Linked DNA regions of Homo sapiens. The protein of the gene in region 1 purifies or fractionates together with the protein of each later gene. This does not show direct contact. Each region holds a gene or a part of one and is shown in the gene's direction. Other genes may lie near its edges. The genes, in order: EEF1AKMT1 and NFS1.

Region 1 (3,820 bases):
CCTCAAATTCTATACCCACAGTTAAACAGACATTATCAGAAACAAAAGCTGAGAGAATGCATCACCAGCAGAATTATACTACAAGGAATGTTCAACGAAGTCATTCAAGCAGAAGGAAAATGACACCAGCTGGAAATATCTTTTTTTTTTTTTTTTTTTTTTTTTTGAGACAGAATCTCGCTTTGTCGCCCAGGCAGGAGTGCAGTGGCAAGATCTAGGCTCGCTGCAAGCTCCGCCTCCCGGGTTCATGCCATTCTCCTGCCTCAGCCTCCCGAGTAGCTGGGACTACAGGTGCTTGCCACAACGCCCGGCTAATTTTTTGTATTTTTAGTGGAGACGGGGTTTCACCGTGTTAGCCAGGATGGTCTCGATCTCCTGACCTCGTGATCCGCCCACCTCAGCCTCCCAAAGTGCTGGGATTACAGGTGTGAGTCACCGCGCCTGGCCCACCATCTGGAAATATCTATACAACAGAATGAGGAGTTAAATATATGTATGAGTTTTTAATTTAACAATGTAGTGTGGCATTTATAACAAATGTAAAAGTAAAATGTATGACAACAATAACACAAAGGTTTGGAGAAGAGAAATGGATTTATGTATACTATTCTAAGCTTCTGTTTTTTTCTTTTTCTTTTTTTGTTTTTTTTGAGATGGAGTCTTGCTCTGTCGCCCAGGCTGGAGTGCAGTGGTGTGATCTTGGCTCGCTGCAACCTCTGCCTCATAGGTTCAAGCAATTCTCTTGTCTCAGCCTCCTGAGTAGCTGGGACTACAGGCGCCTGCCATCACACCTGGCTAATTTTTGTATTTTTAGTTGAGACAGGATTTCACCATATTGGTCAGGCTAGTCTCAAACTCCTGACTTCAGGTGATCCACCTGCCTTGGCCTCCCAAAGTGCTGGGATTACAGACGTGAGCCACCGCACCCAGCCATGTACCATAATTCTTAAGCAACCTCTTAAATAACAGAGTCACAGCTAGTAAGCTAGCAATGGAGAAAGAAATAGATTCATAAAATGTTTTCACTGCTATGTAGTGAATATATTTATACTGTAGGAATATACAACATTATATACTGTCTAATGGTTGGACATTTCAGTTGAGTTTAATTTTTTCTATTACATGTTTCTTTTTTTCTTTTTCTTTTCTTTCTTTCTTTTTTTTTTTTTTTTTGAGATGGAGTCTCACTGTGTCACCCAGGCTGGAGTGCAGTGTTGTGATCTCTGCCCACTGCAACCTCCTCCTCCCAGGTTCAAGTGATTCTCCTGCCTCAGCCTCCTAAATAGCTGAGATTACAGGCAGTGCCAACATGCCCAGCTAATTTTTTTGTATTTTTAGTAGAGATGGGGTTTCACCATGTTGGCCAGGCTGGTCTTGAACTCCTAACCTCATGATCTGCCCACCTTGGCCTCCCAAAGTGCTGGGATTACAGGTTTGAGCCACCACGCCCAGCCTCTATTGCATATTTCTATTTTGAGCATCTTTTCATATATGCCTACTTGATGTTAGACTTCTTAATTGCGGTCAATCTGGTAGGTGTATAGTGGTATCTCATTATGATTATAATTTGCATTCCCTCATGACAAGGTTGAATACCTTGTCATATGATGTTTGATTATCTGTATGTCATCTTTTATAAAGTGCCTGTTGAAATGTTTTTCCTATTTTGTCTTTTGGTATAAAAGAATTCTAAAAAAAAAAAAATTCAAGAAACATATATGAAAGCTAGAAAAGGAAACAAGAATTAAAACCAAGAGAAGAGGCCAGACGCAGTGGCTCATGCCTGTAATCCCAGCACTTTGGGAGCCCAAGGCAGGTGGATCACGAGGTCAGGAGTTCGAGACCAGCCTGGCCAACATGGTGAATCCCATCTCTACTAAAAGATACAAAAAATAGCCAGGTGTGGTGGCCGGCGCTTGTAATCGCAGCCACTGGGGAGGCTGAGGCAGGGGAATCGTGTGAAACTAGAAGGCGGAGGTTGCAGTGAGCTGAGATTGCACCACTGCACTCCAGCCTGGGCGAAAGAGTGAAACTCTATCTCAAAAAAAAAAAAAAAAAAAAAAAAACCCAAGGGAAGAAACAGAAAGCAAATAATGAAATAGGCTTAAGCACAATATATCAATAATAACATTAAGTGTAAAAGGTCCAGATGCACCAATAAAGGAGCTTATCAGTAAGGATTTAGTTTTTATTTTTATTTTATTTTATTTTCGAGTTGGAGTCTTGCACTGTTGCCTGGGCTGGAGTGCAGTGGCACGATCTCGCTCACTGTAACCTCTGCCTCCCGGGTTCAAGCGATTTTCCTGCCTCAGCCTCCCGAGTAGCTGGGATTACAGGTGCCCTCCACCATGCCCGGCTAGTTTTTTGTATTTTTAGTAGAGACGGGGTTTCGTTATGTTGACCAGGCTGGTCTCAAACTCCTGACCTCGTGATCCACCCGCCTCAGCCTCTCAAAGTGCTGGGATAACAGGCGTGAGCCACTGTGCCTGGCCAGGATTTTTTTTTTAGACGAAAACTATATGCTGCCCACAAGAAACTCACTTCAAAATTAGGGTGTGTGTGTGTGTGTGTGTGTGTGTGTGTGTGTGTGTTGAAAGTGAAAGGAAGGGGAAAATATATGCCATAGAAGCTTTTTTTTAAAAGCATGAGCACTTTTATTGATAGCAGGTAAAGTAGACTTATAAGAGTAAAGAAGTCACTAGGAACAACAACAGAATTACATAATGATAAAAAGAGTGAATTCATCAAGAACAAACAACAGTTCTAAGTATGTACGCACCAAACGAGAACAATTTAAATTACATGAAGCATGAAATAAAAACTGATAGAACTGAAAGGAAACAGACAAATCCACAATTACAGCTGGGTACTTCCATTCCCTCTCAGCAATCGATAGAACTACTAGATGGGAAACCAGCAAGGATACAGGGGACTTAATAACACCATTAACCAAAAGGATCTATTCACATTTATATAACCTTCACCCAACAACATCAAAATACACATTGTTTTCAAGTATTCATGGAATATTTCACCAACATAGACCATATCCATAGCTATTACACAAACTTCAGCATTTTTAAAAAGTGTTGAAATTATACATGCTAGAAAACCTAATAGGAAAATCTCCAAACACTTGGAAATTAAACAGTGTCCTTCTAAATATATGGGCCAGAGAGAAATTTAAAAGTACACTGAACTGAATGAAAATGGGTGAAAAAGGACAAAAATTTGCTGGGATGTTGCTAAAAGGGAATTTAAAGCACTGAACACTTAAATTAGAAGAAAGGTCTCAAAACAGTGTTCTAAACTCCCAGAACAAAAAGGTAGTTTAAAACAAATGCAAAGCAAGTAGAAGGAAGGAAATGAAAGGCAGAAATCAATGAAATTGAAAATAAAGTCAATGATGCAAAAACTTATTTTTTAAAAGAGATCAATAAAATTGATGAACCTTTAGTAAGAAAAAAGAGAAAACAGAAATTACTGACATTAGGAATGAAATGGGGGATATCAGTACAGATCCTAAAGACATTAGAAATAATTGAGGACTGCTATAAACATCTCTATCCAGATAAATTTTAACAACTTAGATGAAGCAGACCAATTCGTTGAAACTACAAACTACGAGAACTCACCCCATATGAAACTGATAATGTGAATAGCCGTGTAAGTATTAAATTGAATTTGCAGTTAAAGGCCTCTCATACAAGAAATTTTCAGGCCAGGCATGGTGGCTCATGCCTGTAATCTCAGCAGTTTGGGAGACCTAGGCGGGCAGATCACCAGAGGTCAGGAGTTTGAGACTGGCCTGGCCAACATG
Region 2 (3,820 bases), on another chromosome or scaffold:
AAATGAAGTGTAAATCTTCCTCTCCTTCCCCAAGGACCCCAGTCCCTGATCCTGTTCTGCAAAGTTGATACTGTTAATTCTTTTTTTTTTTCCCAAGGGGGAGTCTTGCTGTGTCACCCAGGCTGGAGTGCAGTGCCGTAATCTTGGCTTACTACAACTTCTGCCTCCAGGGTTCAAGCGATTCTCCTGCCTCATCTTCCTGAGTAGCTGGGATTACAGGAGCCTGCTACCACACCCAGCTAATTTTTGTATTTTTAGTAGAGACGGGGTTTCGCCATGTTGACTAGGCTGGTCTCAAACTTCTGACCTCAGGTGATCCACCTGCCTCAGTCTCCCAAAGTGCTGGGATTACAGGTGTGAACCACTGCTCCTGGCCCATTTTTTTTTCTTTTTTCTGTTTTTTGAGACAGAGTCTTGATCTCACCTAGGCTGGAGTGCAGTAGCCAGATCTCAGCTCACTGCAGCCTTGACCTCCTTGGCTCAGGTGATCCTCCTGAGTAGCTGGGACTACAGATGTGTACCACCACGCCAGGCTAATTTTTTTTTTTTTTTTTTTTTTTTTTTTTTTAGTATAGATGATGTTGCTCAGGCTGGTCTTGAACTCCTGAGCTCAAGCGATCCTCCTGCCTTAGTCTCCCAAAGTGGTGGGATTATAGGCATTAGCCACCACCACATCCAGCCCCCTTTTTTTTTTTTAATTAATTAATTTATTTATTTATTTTGAGATGGAGTCTCACCCTGTCGCCCAGGCTAGAGTGTAGGGGCATGATCTCGGCTCACTGCAACCTCTGCCTCCCAGGTTCAAGCGATTCTCCTGCCTCATCCTCCTGAGTAGCCGGGATTACAGGTGCGTGCCACCACACCTCGCTAATTTTTGTATTTTTATTTTTATTTATTTATTTATTTTTTGAGACAGAGTTTTGCTCTTGTTGCCCAGGCTGAAGTGCAATGGCGTGACCTCGGCTCACTGCAGCCTCCAACTCCTGGGTTCAAGCGATTCTCCTGCCTCAGCCTCCAGAGTATCTGGGATTACAGGCATGTACTACCACGCCTGGCTAATTTTTGTATTTTTTTTAGTAGAGACGGAGTTTTTCCATGTTGGTCAGGCTGGTCTTGAACTCCCGACCTTAGGTGACCCTCCCTTCTCGGCCTCCCAAAGTGTTGGAATTACAGGTGTGAGCCACCGCGCCTGGCCATTTTTGTATTTTTAGTAGAGATGGGGTTCCACCATGTTCGTCAGGCTGGTCTCAAACTCCTGACCTCGTGATCCACCTGCCTGAGCCTCCCAAAGTGGAGGGATTACAGGCATGAGCCACTGCACCTGGCGTTCTTTTTTTTTTTTTTTTTTTTTTTTTTTGAGATGCAGTCTCGCTCTGTTGCCCAGGCTGGAGTGCAATAGCACTCTTGGCTCACTGCAACCTCTGCCTCCTGATTTCAAGTGATTCCCCTCCCTCAGCCTCCTGAGTAGTTGGGATTACAGGTGCGTGCCACCGGGCCTGGCTTATTTTTTAATTTTTAGTAGAGATGGGGTTTCCCCATGTTGGCCAGGCTGGTCTCAAACTCCTGACCTTAGATGATCCACCTGCCTCGGCCTCCCAAAGTGCTCGGATTACAGTCGTGAGGCACTGCACCTGGCCGCTTTTTTTTTTTCTTCAATGAGATAAATGTTTTTTTTAGTTTCTTGTAATAGTTGAAATTCCAGGAATTTTTAAATGTACCTTTATTGTTTCTTGTGATATTAACAGTAATACCTACTCATGACTTGTTTACTGTTATATCACTGGCACCTAGAAAATTACTTGGGATACTGGAGGTGCTAAATATTGGTTAAATGAATGAATCATAAATTCCAATAATATAGAGTAGAACTCTAAACACATTTTCACTGCTAATTTGCTGTATATTTCTCCAGATTTTTAAATACCTACATTAATCTGTATACTATTATTATTTTAATAGATTTTATTTTTTATAGCAGTTTTAGGTTCACAGCAAAATTGAAAGGAAGGTATAGAAATTTCCTATATATGCCCTGCCCCCAGGTATGCACAGCCTTCTGCCATTATTAGCATCCTCCATCAAGTGGTACATTTGTTGCAATTGATGACCTGATATTGATACATCATTATCACCCAAAGTCCATAGCTTATATTAGGATTCACTGGTGTTGTACATTCTATGGGTTTGGACAAATGTGATTTATTCTAGTGAATTATTGAACTTGACCGGGCTTCGGGAAGCCCTGAATTTGTATTTGACTGGGCAGAAGTATGGGTAGCTTGAGACCCCTGGGACTTATGTCTGGTATCTGAACTAGGGGCAGTCTTGTACGATTGAGCCCTTAACCCATGGGGTTTTCACTAAGTCTGGAGAGTTAGCCTCAGAATTGAATTATAGGATACTCAGTTGGTATGAGAGAACTGGTGTTGGAGCATACTGTTCTTGCCCACTTTTCCTTTACAAATGAGATTGAAGTCATTGCTGTCTCTCTGAGTATGTTCTCCTTCCATCTGTCACCACCAATTTCTAGGGGGTGGCCCGATTCTACAGGTCACGGAAAAAGCACTTGATCACCACCCAGACAGAACACAAATGTGTCTTGGACTCCTGCCGTTCACTGGAAGCTGAGGGCTTTCAGGTCACCTACCTCCCAGTGCAGAAGAGTGGGATCATTGACCTAAAGGTAGGAGTGGCTATTGGCAGGAGGAGCAAAAATGGAGGAGCCTGGCTTCAGCTTGTAAATTTCTCTCTTGGGCCCTAGCTGGAGCTTGAAGGAATAGATCTAACAGTTAGGATGAAGTTTAGAGAAATAAGCCTGGCAGAGAACGAGATCATGTTCCCCTTGAGTGTGTACTGTCCTCCTTTTCTCTGGAGGACTTGTTTCTTTTTCTTTTTTTTGAGATGGAGTCTCACTCTTTTGCCCAGGCTAGAGTGCAGTGGCTTGATCTCAGCTCTCTGCAACCTCTGGAGGACTTGTTACTTCTTTTTTTTATTTTGAGACAGAGTTTGGCTCTTATAACTCAGGCTGGAATGCAGTGGCGCGATCTCGGCTCACTGCAACCTCCGCCTCCTGGGTTCTAATGATTCTCCTGCCTCACCCTCCCGAGTAGCTGGGATTACAGACGCATGCCACCAGGCCCAGTTAATTTTTTTTTTTTTTTTTTTTGAGGCAGAGTCTCATTCTGTCACCTAGGCAGGAGTGCAGTGGCACTCCACTGCAACCTCCACCTCCCGGGTTCAAGTGATTCTCCTGCCTCAGCCTCCTGAGTAGCTGGGACTACAGGCACGTGCCACCACACCTGGCTAATTTTTTTTTTTTTTTTTTTTAAAACAGAGTCTCGCTGTATTGCCAGGCTGGAGTGCAGTGGCGCGATCTTGGCTCACTGCAACCTCTGCCTCCCGGGTTCAAGCGACTCCCCTGCCTCGGCCTCCCAAGTAGCTGGGATTACAGGCATGCACCACCACGCCTTGCTAGTGTTTTTTTGTATTTTAGTAGAGACGGGGTTTCACCATGTTAGCCAGGATGGTCTCTATCTCCTGACCTCGTGATCCACCCACTTCGGCCTCCCAAAGTGCTGGGATTACAGGCGTGAGCCACCGTGCCCGGCCACACTTGGCTAATTTTTTATATTTTTAGTAGAGATGGGGTTTCACCATATTGGCCAGGCTGGTCTCGAACTCCTGACCTCGTGATCCACCTGCCTCGGCCTCCCAAAGTGCTGGGATTACAGGCATGAGCCGCCATGCCTGGCTCTAATTTTTGTATTTTTAGTAGAGACAGAGTTTCACCATGTTGGTCAGGCTGGTCTTGACCTTTTGA

Evidence for each region.
Region 2: the proteins of EEF1AKMT1 (region 1) and NFS1 purify together in Homo sapiens (affinity purification with mass spectrometry; one large-scale study listed by BioGRID and IntAct). This does not show direct contact.

The regions. Positions count from the first base shown.
Region 1 is NC_000013.11:20,763,652-20,767,471, reverse strand, and holds part of EEF1AKMT1 (EEF1A lysine methyltransferase 1), read left to right. Parts: intron 1-3,820. UniProt on the Homo sapiens protein: Protein N-lysine methyltransferase that selectively catalyzes the trimethylation of EEF1A at 'Lys-79'.
Region 2 is NC_000020.11:35,689,276-35,693,095, reverse strand, and holds part of NFS1 (cysteine desulfurase isoform a precursor), read left to right. Parts: intron 1-725; exon of another isoform or gene 726-847; intron 848-2,530; coding exon 2,531-2,683; intron 2,684-3,820.